2 separate regions of the Homo sapiens genome follow, and region 2 is linked to region 1. The links come from fine-mapping of genetic effects on gene expression. Tissue or cell type: whole blood. Region 1 holds a variant in brackets; the other region holds the start of a gene. All regions are shown on one strand. Distances are from middle to middle.

What was found. PIP is the estimated chance that this variant, and not a neighbour inherited with it, causes the effect.
Region 2: DDX3X starts here. The variant in region 1 is fine-mapped to the expression of DDX3X in whole blood (TOPMed, PIP above 0.99).

The regions. Positions count from the first base shown.
Region 1 is chrX:41,439,287-41,447,391 of GRCh38, forward strand. NYX (nyctalopin) reads left to right here and starts at 8,057. Exons shown (of 3, transcript NM_001378477.3): 1 at 8,057-8,105. RefSeq lists enhancers at 2,744-2,793, 3,734-3,803, 5,723-5,792, 5,943-6,012, 6,133-6,182 and a silencer at 2,904-3,413. The variant C/T (reference allele first, on the strand shown) is at 3,133.
Region 2 is chrX:41,329,293-41,337,397 of GRCh38, forward strand. DDX3X (DEAD-box helicase 3 X-linked) reads left to right here and starts at 4,870. Exons shown (of 17, transcript NM_001356.5): 1 at 4,870-5,005. The coding sequence starts at 4,961. RefSeq lists a silencer at 3,691-4,180 and an enhancer at 4,271-4,500.

The DNA of each region.
Region 1 (8,105 bases):
GTCATGTCATAGCAAAAGGCAGTACAATAAATAAATAAGGTCATTACATAATGCTCAAATGTATATTACATTATGAAAATTGAAAATACTGAATGTATGTGTTACAAAAACCATTGTAACAAACCCATAAAAGAAAATAGACAAAAAGGCAAGAAGAAGTAAATATGATTTTAATTGGAACCCTCAATATTCCATTTCTGGAAAAAATAGACACAAACTAAATTGAAAAATACTGTATAATTGAATAATTCTTTCAAAAAACTGTTTTCAGGGCTTACTAGATTTTAAGTCTGTGCTACATGCTAGAAGACAAGTCCATGAACAATATGAATTTAACAGACTTATGGAGAGATTAGAGATGGGACAAGTTAATATTGTCTCTTTTCAAGTGTACATAGATCATACCATCTGCAAACAAACGAACATATAAAAAAACTAAGATCCTATATTGGACAATAAAGACTCATTCTTTCATTAGTTTAGCACACATTAACCAGTTTATTCAATGTATTAGGTTGTTTTGGTATTCACAGAAAGGCAGAAACACCATCCACCAAATGGTCAAACCACAGGTCAATAAAATTAAAAAAAAAATAAAAGCAAGTAGGGCTCGGTGGCTCACGCCTGTAATCCCAACACTTTGGGAGGCCGAGGTAGGCAGATCACCTGAGGTCAGCAGTTTGAGACCAGCCTGGCCAATATGGTGAAACCCTGTCTCTACTAAAAATACAAAAATTAGCCAGACATGGTGATGCACGCCTGTAATCCCAGCCTCTGAGTGGGAGGCTGTGGCAAAAGAATTGCTTGAACCTGGGAGGCGGAGGTTGCAGTGAGCCGAGATCGTGCCACTGCACTCCAGCCTGGGTGATAGAGTGAGGCTCAAAAAAAAAAAAAAAAAAGTACAATTCAATAGCAGTAGGTACACTTACATTGTTGTGCAACCATCACCACTATCCTTCTCTAGAATGCTTCCCTCATCTCACACTGAAGCTCTATACCCTTTAAACTATAACTCCTGATTCTCTCCTCTCTCCAGGAAATTCACTTTTGAGCTTAAACTGTTTTGAGTTAGATACTTGTACCTTGCAATCAAGAGTCAACTAACATAACTTTGTAAGAGAATATATATAATATATAGAATATATATATATATTCTATATATAATATATAGAATATATATATATTCTATATATAATATATAGAATATATATATTCTGTCTCTATATATTCTCTATATATATATTCTCTATATTCTCTATATATTCTATATCTATATATTCTATATCTATATTCTATATCTATATATTCTTTATATTCTATATATATTCTTATCTATATTCTATATATATTCTTATCTATATTCTATATATATTCTTATCTATATTCTATATATATTCTTATATATATTCTATATATTCTTATATATTTTCTATATATATTCTTATATATTTTCTATATATATTCTATGTATATTCTATATATATTCTATATATGGATTACATATAATCTCTATATATTCTATATATATGGATTATATATAATCTCTATATATTCTATATATATGGATTATATATAATCTCTATATATTCTATATATATTCTATATATATATTCTATATATATATTCTATATATATTCTATATATATATTCTATATATATTCTATATATATTCTATGTATAATCTATATGGATTATATATATTCTATGTATATTCTATATATATTCTATATATACAGGTGAGGTGGCTCACACCTGTAATCCCAGCACTTTGAGAGGCCAAGGTGGATGGATCATCTGAGGTCAGGAGTTCGAGACCAGCCTGACCAATATGGTGAAACCCCATTTCTACTAAAAGTACAAAATTAGCCAGGCATGGTGGTGCATGCCTTTAATCCCAGCTACTTGGGAGGCTGAGGCAGGAGAATCACTTGAACCCAGGAGATGGAAGTTGCAGTGAGCCAAGATCATGCCATGGCACTCTAGCTTGGGCAACAAAAGTGAAACTCCATCTCAAAACAAACAAGCAAACAAATATTCTCTGCTGGGTACAGTGGCTCACGCCTATAATCCCAACACTTTGGGAGGCCAAGGGAGAAGGATAGTTTGAGTTCAGGAGTTCAAGACCAGCCTGAGCAGCATAGTGAGACACTGTCTCAACAAAAAAAAATTTTTAAATTTAGGCAGACATGGTGGTGCATGCCTGTAGTCCCAGCTACTCAGGAGGTTGAGGCAGGAGAATCTCTTGAACCTGGGAGGTGGAGGCTGCAGTGAGCTGAGATTGCAACACTGCACTCCAGCCGGGGCGACAGAGTGAGACTCTGTCTCAAAAAAACAAAAAACAAAAAAACAAAAAACCACAAAACACACACACATACACAAACAATAACTGGCCAGGCACGGTGACTCACGCCCTTAATCCCAGCACTTTGGGAGGCCGAGGCAGGTGGATCACCAGGTCAGGAGTTCAAAAGCAGCCTGGCCAAGATGGTGAAACCCCATCTCTACCAAAAATACCACGCCCGGCCCTTGGTGTAACTTTTATTGAAAAAAAAATCCAAGTGTAAGTGGTTACGCGAAGTGTAAACCCATATTGTTCAAGGGTCAACTGTATCGGGAAATGGAGAGACCTACTTTGTTTTTTGTTTGACATCTGCTGCAATGGGAGAGAAACCTACTTTGGATGCAATGTAAAGAACGATGATTTCAGAAGAGGCCCCAGGAAGGTGTATTTGTGGGCAGTGGGCAGAGCCTGTTGGTGAGCTAACCCTTCATTTACAGGTGACAAACAGGCCATGCGCACTACGCGGCCTGGTCAGGAGGACACGGCACTGGGAGATCTTCCCCAGGGTGTGACCTTTGGCAGGTTAGGTCCCCACCCTGGCATCCCTTCCAGCCCGGGCATTCTGCGACTCCAGGTGCGTGAGGAACGTTTCTGGCACCAGGCACGCCCTGGGACTTTCCCCAGCCCTGGCCCCCGCCCCCACCGAGTAGGTGCGGGTGCCGCGGCGGGGAGCAGACAGAGGTCCCGGGGCCGCCCCACCCCGACTCCCGAACCTCGGTGCCCTCTGGCGGCCACGCTGGGCAGGACCGGGCTCATCGGGGGCGTGGCTCGCCCCGGAGGCTCCGCCCCTT[C/T]TCCCCAGGGTGGGGCCGGGGTGGTGGTTACCGGCAGAGGCTGCAGAGGTTTCGCAAGGACGTGACCTTTATGGGAAAAAAAAACCACTGTGTCACGCACGGTTGCCAGCCGGGGCCAGCGAGCTGAACTAGTTTTCTGAAGCCCGCGGAGGGAGGAGCCAGAGCGGAAACGTCCAGCCCAGTGACTCGCTGCCTACTGCCCCTCCAGGACCGCGGCGGCGCGCCCTGAGCCCCGGGGCACCAGATGGGGCGCGAGCCCGCACCTAACTGTGTCCGGGCCTGCCGTTGGGGCGACGTCACTGTCACTACACTGGGAGTCAGCGGAATGAGGGCACTCTCGCCTCTCTTCCTCCTTCCTCCAATTCCAGAAATGAGGCCCGGGAGCCCAGGCTGATCCAATCCAACCCCACTGAGCTGGGGTTTGGATTGGAAGGGCGGATGTGAAACGACAGAAGTAGGATAGTTTGCGAATAAAGAACAAGGGAGTTGGGTGCTTTAGCCACAGAATAGGTTCAGCCAAGGTCATTTAGAGGTGCCCAGCAAGAGGGGAGTGGCTACCCCTCCCCCATCCTGATCTGAGGCATGCAGTGGGGACGTCGGGGGTGGCCACAGGGGCTGTGTGTGTCCTTATTAGGACCCGAGAAAAACCCAGGGACTGGGAGGCAGGAGGACAGGGTACCCACTGGGTCCCAGCTCCACCTTCATATGTCACTCTGGGGAGCAGGTCACTTAATCTCTCTGGGCCTCAGTTTCCTCACTTGAAGAATGAGGGGTCTGGACAAGATTATGGAATATGTTTCGAGTACAATCAGGCCTAGGAACTGAAAGTCCCTGTCCTGACACCATCCAGTAAGTCAGAGAAAAAGGAAGGGTAAGAGGCCAAGGCTGTCACTCACCCGGTTCTCTTTCTATAGCTCCCTTACAAATTCTCACATGGGCTTCAATTCCCTTCAGCAAACAATTGTGCACTTCCGCCTGTGTGCCAAACCCAGGCTTGGGCCCAGCTTTGTGGGGCCTGGGGCAAGAGTACGCACGGAGGACCACACACTGTATGTCTGAATATTTAAAAGCTACACATCAAGCTAAAAAACTGTTAAATAAAACATGTTCTATCCTCCTATCTGAGCAGATATACCTTCATAACAATCTGGAAGGTTAAATTCAAGTTTGCAATTCTTGCATTCCTCAGCATTCTGGGCTAGGGTGTGATGGCACAGAGAGTGGCCCCAGCTCAAGGCCATGGCGTAGCTTCCCTCTATTCCCAGGCCGGATCCATCCCATGCTATAGCGGATCTTTCCCACGCACGTCCTCATATCCAAGCTCTGTCCCCTTCTCTGCAACTGTCTACCCCCTAAAGGATCACCTCTCGAGTATGCACATTGGTGAGACCATCCACCTTCAGGAGACTGGACCTAGAGGAGTGGGTTCAGAACCTGTTGGGCAGTGAATTCCCAGGTCGCAGGTATCCAGAACGTGGTTCTGGGTGGGTAAGTGTCTTGGCCTCAATGACTCCTTGCCCTGTGTCTCCCTGCCTCTTGCCCTGTCTGAAGGCGACACCAGCCAGACATTGTGGGAGTGCAGACTTGGATCAAGCACAGCCCCTCCAAGGAGGCCAGCCATCCAAACACTATGAACTTTGGGCGCAGTGGCTCAGGCCTGGCGTGGTGGCTCACGCCTGTAATCCCAGCACTTTGGGAGGCCGAGGTGGGCGGATCACTTGAGGTCAGGAGTTTGAGGCCAGCCTGGACAATATGGTGAAACCCCATCTCTACTAAAAATACAAAAATTAACCGGACATGGTGGCGCGTGCCTGTAATCCCAGCTACTCCGGAGGCTGAGGCAGGAGAATTGTTTGAACCCGGGAGGCGGAGGTTGCTGTGAGCCGATAGCGCACCACTGCACTCCAGCCTGGGCAGCAGAGCGAGACTCAGTTTCAAAACAAACAAACAAACAAACAAACAAACAAACAAACAAACACTGTGAACTTCGAGGCAGATGCCTGCAAGTGAGAAAGGAGGGCACTGGAAGGGGATTCATTTCTTAGAGGTGGTAGCGCTTATGCTAAGCATAGCAGGCAGATTGAGATTTCAGCAGGTGGAGAAGTGGGGAAAGAAAGGAGCAAAGCAAAGGCCCAGGAAGGGCTACCCAGGGTTGGGGTGTCTGTGAATTGTCACTACAGGGCAGAAAGGCTGGAGGGCAAATCTGTGTCCTCCAGATAGCAGGCAAAGCCTCCAGTAGTCGCCGGCTGTCTTAATTAATCGGTAATTCTTACCAATTCCAAGGTGGGGAAGCCTGGCCAAAACGGCGAAACCCCATCTCTGCTAAAAACACAAAAATTAGCCAGGCATGGTGGCCGGCGCCTGTAGTTCCAGCTACTTGGGAGGCTGAGGCAGGAGAATGGCTTGAATCCAGGAGGTGGAGGCTGGCAAAATCATGCATCTTGGGCCATCACTATTTCTCAAGGTCACTTACACACCCCTTCTCCCTCCTTCAGCTCCTTTTATGGGCTACCAACTGCATGATGAGTGAGAACTAGCATGGGTACAAAACCACCCCAGGAGGGCCAGGTACAGTGGCTCACGCCTGTAATACCAACATTTTGGGAGGCTGAGGCCAGTGGATCATTTGATGTCGGGAGTTCGAGACCAAACTGGCTAGCATGGTGAAACCTCATCTTTACTAAAAATACAAAAAAAATTAGCCGGGTGTGGTGGTACTCACCTGTAGTCCCAGCTACTCAGGAGGCTGAGGCAGGAGAATTGCTTGAACCCGGGAGGCAGAGGTTGCAGTGGGCTGAGATCACGCCACTGCACTCCAGCCTGAGGGACAGAGTAAGGCTCCATCTCAAAAACAAAAACGAAAAAATCCCTCCCCCAGCAGCCCACGAGTGGCTGGAGTAGGCTCTGAAAGGGCCGGCCTTTCTCCTGTCTTGAGCTTTAAGTTTCTCCCAGGGGAAGTCAGTCAATCGCATTTCCTGTAACAACCCTGGGCCACCTGCTTTTCTCCCTGCAGCAAGGTTTTGATTAAGGGCTGCTCATCCTCCCAAGTCGGTGGTACCAGCTCACCTGGTGGATGGGCTCCTTCCTTTTTATGCCAAGAGTCTCTGATGCCTCCTTATTTTCCACTTGGGAGAAATGTTTCAGTTCACAGGTGGAGAAGAAGGTCTTCCTTAGTGGGATCCCAGTGCCAGAGCACCAGGCCCACTGGCCTGGAGAAGATTGAAGGGAAGGTTGGACCAATAAGCTGCGAACAAAGGTTGTGGGTGCAGACAGGTTGGCTCTTACAGTCGAGATTCAGCCTCTGGACTGCTGCTGGGGGAGTGGGGGCTTCGTTGGGCTAAGGCTTGGGGTGATGGCTACAGGGACACCTCCGACACTGGTGGTCACAATGAGAGGGCTGCCCACTGCTCTCATCTAATAAGCCAGGCGAGTCCAACACTGGGGATAGAGATGTCATTTGAGAGGCCTCCCCCACCCACATCCCTACCCCATCCCTAGTATTCTCTTCTTTCCAGCAGGTTAGACAAGTTCAGCCACATTTTGGCTTTCAAGGCTCAAATGGAAGAAAACAAAAATTCCCCAGGGCACGGTGGCCTGAGATGTCTAGATTCACATCCAGAACCCTTTCTGTGGGAAGGGAACTCCTGGCTTCCTTTCATCAGCACTGGCTCACCAAGTCCTGCGTGGCCAGAACTTGGCAGGTTGCCATGGATACCTGGAAGTGCTGTCCCAGCAGACAGCAGAGGCTTGCTGGGGCCAGGAGAATGTGGGGGCACCTGAACTGCTGGCCAGAAAGGCTAGATAAACAGGCCCCCCTGCCACCCTCATTTTGATCAGACCCCCTCCACCAGTCTCCTAAAACAGGGCTTTCCAAACTTTACCGGGCACAGGAATCCCCCTCTCCGCCGACCTAGTTAAAATGCAGATGCTGGCCGGGCGCGGTGGTTCACGCCTGTAATCCCAGCACTCTGGGAGGCCGAGGCGGGTGGATCACAAGGTCAAGAGATCAAGACCATCCTGGTCAACATGGTGAAACCCCGTCTCTACTAAAAATACAAAAAATTAGCTGGGCATGGTGTAGTCCCAGCTACTCAGGAAGCTGAGGCAGGGGAATCGCTTGAACCCAGAAGGTGGAGGTTGCAGTGAGCCAAGATTGTGCCACTGCACTCCAGCCTGGGCGACAGAGTGAGACTCCATCTCAAAAAAAAAAAAAAAAAAAAAAAAGCAGATGCTGATTCAACAGGTCTGGGGCGGGGGGTAGAAGGCGCTGAGATTCTGTTTTCCTAACGAGCTCTCAGGTACTGCTGCTGGTCCACCGGCCACACTGAGTAGCCAGGGCCTAAACTGAGTCCTGGTGGGTTTCAGAAACCTCAGCCAGATTCTGAAGGTCCCATTCCTGGACCCACTGCCTTAGGCCACCACTACCAGCCCTAACCCCAGTGGGAACCTCTTGCCTTCTTGTAGTGGAAGGACTCTCTCCAGTCCGTTTTTGTATCATTCACCATCAACCACTTCAAAGAAAGGAAATCAGCAGCCGGCATTTTGGGGAAACATTTTAAGCTGTCCTGTCCCTTCTCCAGCTCTCCAAGTTATATAATGCGTCCTTGTTGAAAATGCTGATAATGCTGTTTGGGTGGCAGGAAGCCAATTTCAGGCTACATATTGCTTGGGGCTGGGGCTGGGGTCAGGGAACGGGGCAGGGTCTGGGGAAGGTTTAAGGAGAGAAAGGGGCCAGGCAGATGGAGAGAGGACAGGAGGGCCAGGGTGGTCAAGGCCCGGGGATAAAGCCGATTGGTATGTCAGCAAAATCTGTCACTGGCTTTAGTGATTCGAAAGGCAGACACATTCTTTCATCTCTGTTAATCCTCATGTGATACAGAGGATTTTCCTGCCATTAAATCTGGAGAAAGAAAAATAAGCACTCAAACCTGCACAAGTAACTATTCCTCTTCACCCCTTCCTCCCGTCCCCCC
Region 2 (8,105 bases), 110 kb before region 1:
GCCTCCTGAGGGCATATGACCCAACCCCCTTCACTATACTTCCAAGACTTCAGTCTTCGGTCACTTTGCATGAACAAAGGCAGAAATGCACTGAGCTTTGCTGTTTGAAAATATTTTTAGCAATTTTAGTGGTAGAAAAGATGCCCTTTGATACAATTTTGTTTTTGATCTTGTCTTCTTTGAGGAAGGAAAGCAGATTCCAGGCCGGATCTGCTGTTTGAGAGTATAATAATTGCCTAAGGCCAGGCGTGGTAGCTCACGCCTGTAATCCCAGCACTTTGGGAGGCCGAGGCGGGCAGATCACCTGAGATCGGGAGTTCGAGACCAGCCTGACCAACACGGAGAAACCCCGTCTCTACTAGAAATAGAAAATTAGCTGGGCGTGGTGGCGCATGCCTGTAATCCCAGCTACTCGGGAGGCTGGGGCAGGAGAATCGCTTGAACCCAGGAGGCGGAGATTGCGGTGAGCCGAGATCGTGCCATGGCACTCCAGCCCCTGGGTGATAGAGCGAGACTCCGTCTCAAAAACAAAAAACAAAAAACAGAGAGAGTAAGTACGGAACTGCATTTACCTCCACACCTATAATTATCCTTCTTATTATAGGGAAGTTCTATGTCTTTGAACTTTATTCCAAATCCACCCTAAAGAAAAGTATGGATCAGCTGGACCCAGGAGGCCCTTCCCCTGGACCTTGCAGAAAAATGACTGACAATCATGAAATTCACTAAAGGCTTTAAGGTACCTATCTCTTGGAATCCCTTTTACAACTCCTTTTCTTCTAGCTTCGGAATAGTCTAATTATCTTTGTCCCAGGTTTTAGGTTACTTGGGCACATTATTTATGTGCATCGCAATAATGTGATTTCAGTCTATCTCTGTCTCCATTCTGCATAGAGAGGTGTGACAAATTTCCTGTCCTCTGTGGGCTCACACACAGCTGCAGTACCACACGGAATTACAGTGGAAGTTTGAACAGTGGAGACTGTGGGAGCCCAGTGCCCAGAGCAACCTACTCTACTAAGGGAGTTGAGAGGATGGGGAGCTAGACACGTGTTATGTGGATCCAGAGCCACTTGGTACTAAGCTCTTACTCCCTGCAAAACACTTAAAAAAAAAAAAAAAGATCTTAAACACTACCTCTCCTCCCCCCCACCCCCGCCTTCTTTTTGAGACGAGTTTCACTCTGTCGCCCAGGCTGGAGTGCAGTGGCGCAATCTCAGCTCACTGCAAACTCCACCTCCTGGACTCAAGCGATTCTCCCACCTCAGCCTCTGGAGTAGCTGGGATTACAGGCGCGCGCCACCAAGCCGTAACTCCTGGAATCAAGTGATCCCGCGTGCCTAGGCCTCCCAAAGTGCTGGGATTACAGGCATTATCCACCACGCCCTGCCTCGCAGAGCACTTTCAATTCATGCACAAGCCCTTGAATCCCAAACACTCTTGGAGGCAGAGACTACTTTTATTCCAACTTTATAGATAAGGAAGCCAGGGCACTGTCAAGGGAGTTGCCTGGTGCCTGTAAGCAGGGAGCTGAACTGGTAGTTAGAGGAATTGCAATTCCCAGGCTCTGGTTCACTGCGCTACCTCCAGGAATGGGGGTGGAAGTGGAGGGAGGGGGCGGTGTTGCAGGAAGTACATTTGCTTCAATATGAACAGTTAAAATGCCTGGAAACATTAAGAAAGGGAGCGTGCAAAAAAAAATTTCCCTGGTTTCAGCCATTTCTTTCTTTTTTTTTTTTGGGGGGGGGCGGAGTCTTGCTCTGTCGCCCAGGCTAATTTTTGTATTTTTTTTAGAGACGGGGTGTCACGGTGTTAGCCAGGATGGTCTCAGTCTCCTGACCTCGTGATCCGCCCGCCTCGGCCTCCCAAAGTGCTGGGATTGCAGGCGTGAGCCACCGCGGCCGGCCTGGTTTCAGCCATTTCTAACCCTTTTTTAGGTCACTTCAAATAAAATTTGCAAATAACTGCCATGTGGAGAAAATATGCAAATGTTGCTAAACGGAAAAGTCATTCGGAGTGCTGTGAAAGTTGGCTCATTTATTTAGCTGCCTCAAGTGTGCACATCATTCTTTTTCAAAGTGAATGTGTTTAAAGACAAAGCTTTGTATGTTTTCCCGCTTCCTCTCCAATTGGATATTCCAATTATAACGTATTGATTAACAAAATACCCTGGTGGTTTGAACCAAGTATGCCTATGAGCAGGGGTTAATTGAAAATAGGGAACTGCTGTATATTTCAATTCTTTTAGGTACTCCCATGGCGGTACCCTGTACTCGGCTCTACTCAAAAGTAAAACAAAGCCCAGAACCAGGGTAGTCAGTGCATCCCATTGTTGCTATATGCAGTTTGAAGAGCTGTCGGAACTCACAGTTTTCGAACCTGACTCATGTTTACCCTGGTTCATAGGAAAACGAAACTGAAACAAAACCGAGGTCCTTCACCAAAACTCCATGAGAATCCACGAATCTCAGGGCAGGAAGGGACCCTAATATCATTAAACCTAGTGGCTCTCCAAGGGGCATTGTAGAAATCTGTGTATTTCTGGTTGTCACAATGACTGGCGAGAGCTACTGGCATTTAGTGGGCAGGAGCCAGGCACGCTAGGATGTTCTATGATGCTGGTCAGTCCCACAGAGCGAATAATTGAATCACTGGACACATGTCGGTGAAAAACTAGTTCATTATCATCTAAGCCTAGAACTAACACTGTTTTACATATGAACACAAAGTATCTTTGCCCAGTTTCCATATATCCTGAATTTTCCACAAATGCAGGTACTGTTTCAATTGAAGGAAGATTGTACTGTTTTATTTAAAAATTATTAATAGTTCATCATTTTGGAAAATGAGGTTCCTAGTAGCAATGCTGCTCATGGAACTTGAGTTGTGAAATCAACACACCTTTCCAGTTTGCATTTGTGGCTCTACTGGGCAAGTGTCTTCCCACCAGTTAGTGTAGCTGTGCGGCGGCATTTACATATTATAATACATTGTTTTATTATAATCATTTTGCTTTCGTTTGTTGACAGATCATGTTTTTTGAAATTGTGTTTGTAGGTTTACATAAACAATTTAGGTTTTGTTATTTCAGTATAGGTAAAGGGGGCGTTAGAAAATACTCGTTATGAAAAGGAGTTGGGTCTTTCACAGGGTTATGGAATGTAGCAGACTCCTTTTATAGATGAGCAAATTGAGACCCAAAGCCGTTAAACAACTTGCCCCCGACAGTGTGATATTCTCTCCCTATCTCGTTCGAATTTCCGTCTCGATTTTAAAAATTGAGAAGGGAGAGAAGTTATGTGTATAGTAAATTATGTGATGAGCACGAACTATTTGAATTCTGGCAGCAGAAGACCTTTTGTGGGGGTGGTGGAAACCACTGCGTTTTATTTAATTTCGTAGGGCTGAGGGTCAGAAGAGAGGGGAAAGCGGTCATAAGAAACTACGGATGTGCGGGCGCCGGCTCAAAGCCGGGAATCCACTAGTAAACACCTTCTTCTATTTAAGGGCCTGCGGCACCGAAGCCGGGACTTGGGGTGGCCTGCCTAGGAGGGAACCACAGGAAGAGGTTCCACCGACGGTAGAAACCCGGTTCCTCCTGTTCCTCATCCACCGCAGCGGCCTGAGAGTCACCCCGAGCCCAGGCCGGTAACCCCGCTGCAGCCCCTCCGGCAGGCCCAGGTTGCACCGGCTACAAACATTCCCGACACCCTTGGGCCCTAGAAGAGCCGTTCGCCACCCGCGGGGTCCCCGCAACGCCGGTGGTCACCGGCCCTAAGCCGCTGGGCGCCCCGCGGGAGGAAACTAGGGGCAAATGTAGCCCGCATTCCTGCGGAGAGCCGGGGTCCCGGGAGGGCGCGCCAGCGGCGGTTCCGGATCAGCGCGTGTCTGTCTCATTGTTCCCTCACCGCGGGGGGCGGGGGCGGAGGCGCGCGCGCACACGTCGGGGGGTTGGCCAGGAGGGGCCATTGTGTGTTTCTAGGCGGCGCCCCCGCTGCCTAGGCAACCGCGCAGGAAGGTGTCCGGCCACCTGCGCGCGCCGCCGGCTCCCCTCCATTTCCCCCCGACTCCCGCCCCGGTCACCATCCTACCCTCCTCCCTCCTCCTTTCCCCTTACTCCGCTCCCCTCTTTTCCCTCCCTCTCCTCCCCTTCCCTCTGTTCTCTCCTCCTCTTCCCCTCCCCTCCCCCGTCCGGAGCACTCTATATTCAAGCCACCGTTTCCTGCTTCACAAAATGGCCACCGCACGCGACACCTACGGTCACGTGGCCTGCCGCCCTCTCAGTTTCGGGAATCTGCCTAGCTCCCACTAAGGGGAGGCTACCCGCGGAAGAGCGAGGGCAGATTAGACCGGAGAAATCCCACCACATCTCCAAGCCCGGGAACTGAGAGAGGAAGAAGAGTGAAGGCCAGTGTTAGGAAAAAAAAAACAAAAACAAAAAAAACGAAAAACGAAAGCTGAGTGCATAGAGTTGGAAAGGGGAGCGAATGCGTAAGGTTGGAAAGGGGGGCGAAGAGGCCTAGGTTAACATTTTCAGGCGTCTTAGCCGGTGGAAAGCGGGAGACGCAAGTTCTCGCGAGATCTCGAGAACTCCGAGGCTGAGACTAGGGTTTTAGCGGAGAGCACGGGAAGTGTAGCTCGAGAGAACTGGGACAGCATTTCGCACCCTAAGCTCCAAGGCAGGACTGCTAGGGGCGACAGGACTAAGTAGGAAATCCCTTGAGCTTAGACCTGAGGGAGCGCGCAGTAGCCGGGCAGAAGTCGCCGCGACAGGGAATTGCGGTGTGAGAGGGAGGGCACACGTTGTACGTGCTGACGTAGCCGGCTTTCCAGCGGGTATATTAGATCCGTGGCCGCGCGGTGCGCTCCAGAGCCGCAGTTCTCCCGTGAGAGGGCCTTCGCGGTGGAACAAACACTCGCTTAGCAGCGGAAGACTCCGAGTTCTCGGTACTCTTCAGGGATGAGTCATGTGGCAGTGGAAAATGCGCTCGGGCTGGACCAGCAGGTGAGCCGCAAGAACCCCACCGGGCTGGCTGCTGCGTGAATTCCTCCCCTGACCTAACCTGGCTAATGGCGCAGCGCTAACCGGCACCCTTACTTTTCATTTTCTGGGTGCCCCGGGCTGGCGGGTGTGAGTGCCCCGGGGCTATAGAGGGATAGGAATGTTGGTTGGGGCTGTCGCCCGGGCCCGGTCTCGGCCCGCTGTATTGTCCCCGGGACGAGCACAATGGCGGCTTTTGTGTGTGCGTGCGCAGGCGGGCGGAGGGGGAGGAAGTGCGCGCGCTCTCGCGGGGACGCGCATGCGCGAATCCCGACTGATTAGTGACCTGGGGGGGTTTGCGGGAGTGCGCAGCGCGGCGGGACGCGACTGGAGGCCCTTTTGGCTTGGAGGGCTTCGGCCTTCACGGCTGGCGCAGCCTGGATTCCCGTCCGGAGGACCTGGCGGCACCCGGTGTTTGCGTGCCTGCGAGCAAGGGGTAGAACGCGGCCCAGGAATGTGGGAGGGGGCGGCCTTCGCTCGGGGTAATGGCGGCGGCCTCTTTTGTGTGGTGCTGGGCGGCGCTGTGGCTCACCTCCGGGAGACGGCGGGTCTCGGGCGGGCGAAGGCCTGGAAAGGAGGATGGAATGGGTTTCTTGTTTTTTCCCGGGTTCCTTCCGCTGGCTTTTTCGCTTCAGCCCAGGTTCCGCAGGGTCCGGGGGCCCTGCGCCGCAGCCGGGGAGGCTGCGTTTCCGGAGTGGAAAGTTTTGTGACGCAGAAGATTGGGGAGGAGTGGGGGAGGGGTGGGGGCGGGGAGGGGAGGCAGGAATTGGCCGCTGCGCGCTGGGCCCTGGAGATAGAGGTTGGACGTGGCGGGGAGGTTAGGGAGCCAGCGAGGCCCTTTCTCCTCCTTGCTTGCCCCAGATTGTCCCTGTGTGGTATGTTAGCCGGGAGTCCCGCGTTGTTTTTCTGGGGTGGAGGGGTCATCGCGGGTTGTGGTAGTGTCTTCGTGTTAGTGACTGTGATCCAGGAATCCGCCATTGGAAAAACACCCGGCTTAGGGGGGAAGTAAACAGTTTTGTTGTTGACTTGTTGCTATCTGTGGAGTAGAATCTTGCAATGGGTCCCAGGCCCCCGGGTTTTTTCTCTTAGCCAGAATCCCCTCTTCTAAGGGTTTAGGGGCAGAGGAGAGAAAGATGTGTGATTTGAGAGGAGAAGGTTATGGACTTTGGTGGCAGGAAGTCTGCATCCCACCGCAACAGTGGCACCAGGCTTCAGATAAGCTCTTGTGTGGGTTATGCGGAGCTTTTAAATAAACTACTGTCTACTGTGATTAGGGGAGCGTTGATTTCACAAACTCCGGAATAATCCTGAGACGAAGTTTAGTGGCACAAATTAATTGAATACATAGTTTAATGTAGTCATATGTAATATTTTTTAGGAATTGATCTGTTCCTTTGGAAGCATTTTCTACCCGTTAATGAACCAATTATATTAAATCCTCTAATTGCTGACACATGTTGAATTGAACAGACACTTTAACAACCTACCAGCAGCACAGAGTATTCCCAGTTTTACCATTTTCCATTTAGCTATAGTGTCCTTTTAAGGATTCTAGGCAACAGTGAACCTTATTTAAAAAGCAAAATTGTGCTATAACAAGTGCAAAAGGAAAGTTTGTGTTCCTACCGTGCTTTAAAGTATTGATGGTAGCAAGAGAAAGCGCAGTGGTGTTTTTGCTCATAGAAATTCTGGAAATTAGGTGCCTGAAGTCTTACACTCATTTTTTAAAAGTATAGCATCTGCTTCCAGTTTTCAGTGACTCCATTGATGATGCATGCGGTTTGGCCGTATCATACTGAGCTTTAAACACAAGATTTATAAACATGGTATGTAGTGCATCTTTTGCAAACAGGTTGGCAGCGGTACTGTGTGACTTGGTCTTTTGTGGCTTTTTTGAGAAAAATGAAACACTTTGCATGTATAGTTTTTTCTCCCAACTACTTGTGAGTAGTTCCTGGTTATAAAACGTTATGAAGGTAGCACATAACCCTTTTCTAGAATGAAGAGGCTTTTGAGCTACCAGTGTAAGGGGATAGGTAGAAATAGAGATGAAAGGCACTAAGATGTCCTACTCTTTAAGAGCATTGAACGCCAGTTGTGCCATTTATTCAAAGTCATCTTTGAACTTATGTTAAAATGGGGTAAAAACAGGTAACTACTTCAGGCCGGGCTCATGCTTGTAATCCCAGTGCTTTGGGAGGCCAAGGCAGGTGGTTCACCTGACCTGAGGTCAGGAGACCAGCCTGGGCAACATGGCGAAACCCCATCTCTACTAAAAGTACAAAAAGTAGCCTAGCGTGGTGGCGCACCCCTGTAATCCCAGCTACTCGGGGAGGTGGAGGTTGCAGTGAGCCGAGATCACATGACTGAATTCCAGCCTGGATGACAGAGGGAGACTCTGTCTCAAAAAAAATAAAAATAAAAACAAACGAAACAGTCAAACTACTTAAGAGTTGTGCTTAACATAGTGTTCTGTAAGTGGTAGGTATATTGCTATTTTTTTGTTGTTCTTAAGAGTACTACCCGACTAAAAATACTTGGGCAATATTTAGGGATGAAGTATCTAACTAAAAGAACGGCCACTTCGAAATTTGTCCTGACATTTTTCAGGTGTGCATTTTAGGTTTAAAATATCAAGTATTACGGAAAGTTGGCATTGGAAACTTTCATAACCGGCACTAAAACGAATCCTTTATCTATTTGACATTGAGGAATAATTTTGAGATTCAGTGTAAGCTTTAGTTTGGTGATTAGGGAGCCTGTGCTATGGAACATGTTAGTGAAAATTTATTTTGAATGCATGAATTAAATTTGGACAGTTTCTACTGAACAGCACAAGCATCTTGGTGTGCCGCCTTCTGTAGTATATACAATAGTAATATTGCATTTGCTTAGAGCATTGCAGACTTGAAAACATTCTTAGTCACATTCTCATTAAGGGTTGGTATTAGCCCTGTGAGGTGGACTGGGCAACTACTTGAATGCAGTACTAGCAAATGCTAGAGGGCAGGACTAGTTTTCTCTTAATGTAGTATTTGAGCACATGGGGTGCTAACCATCTCAC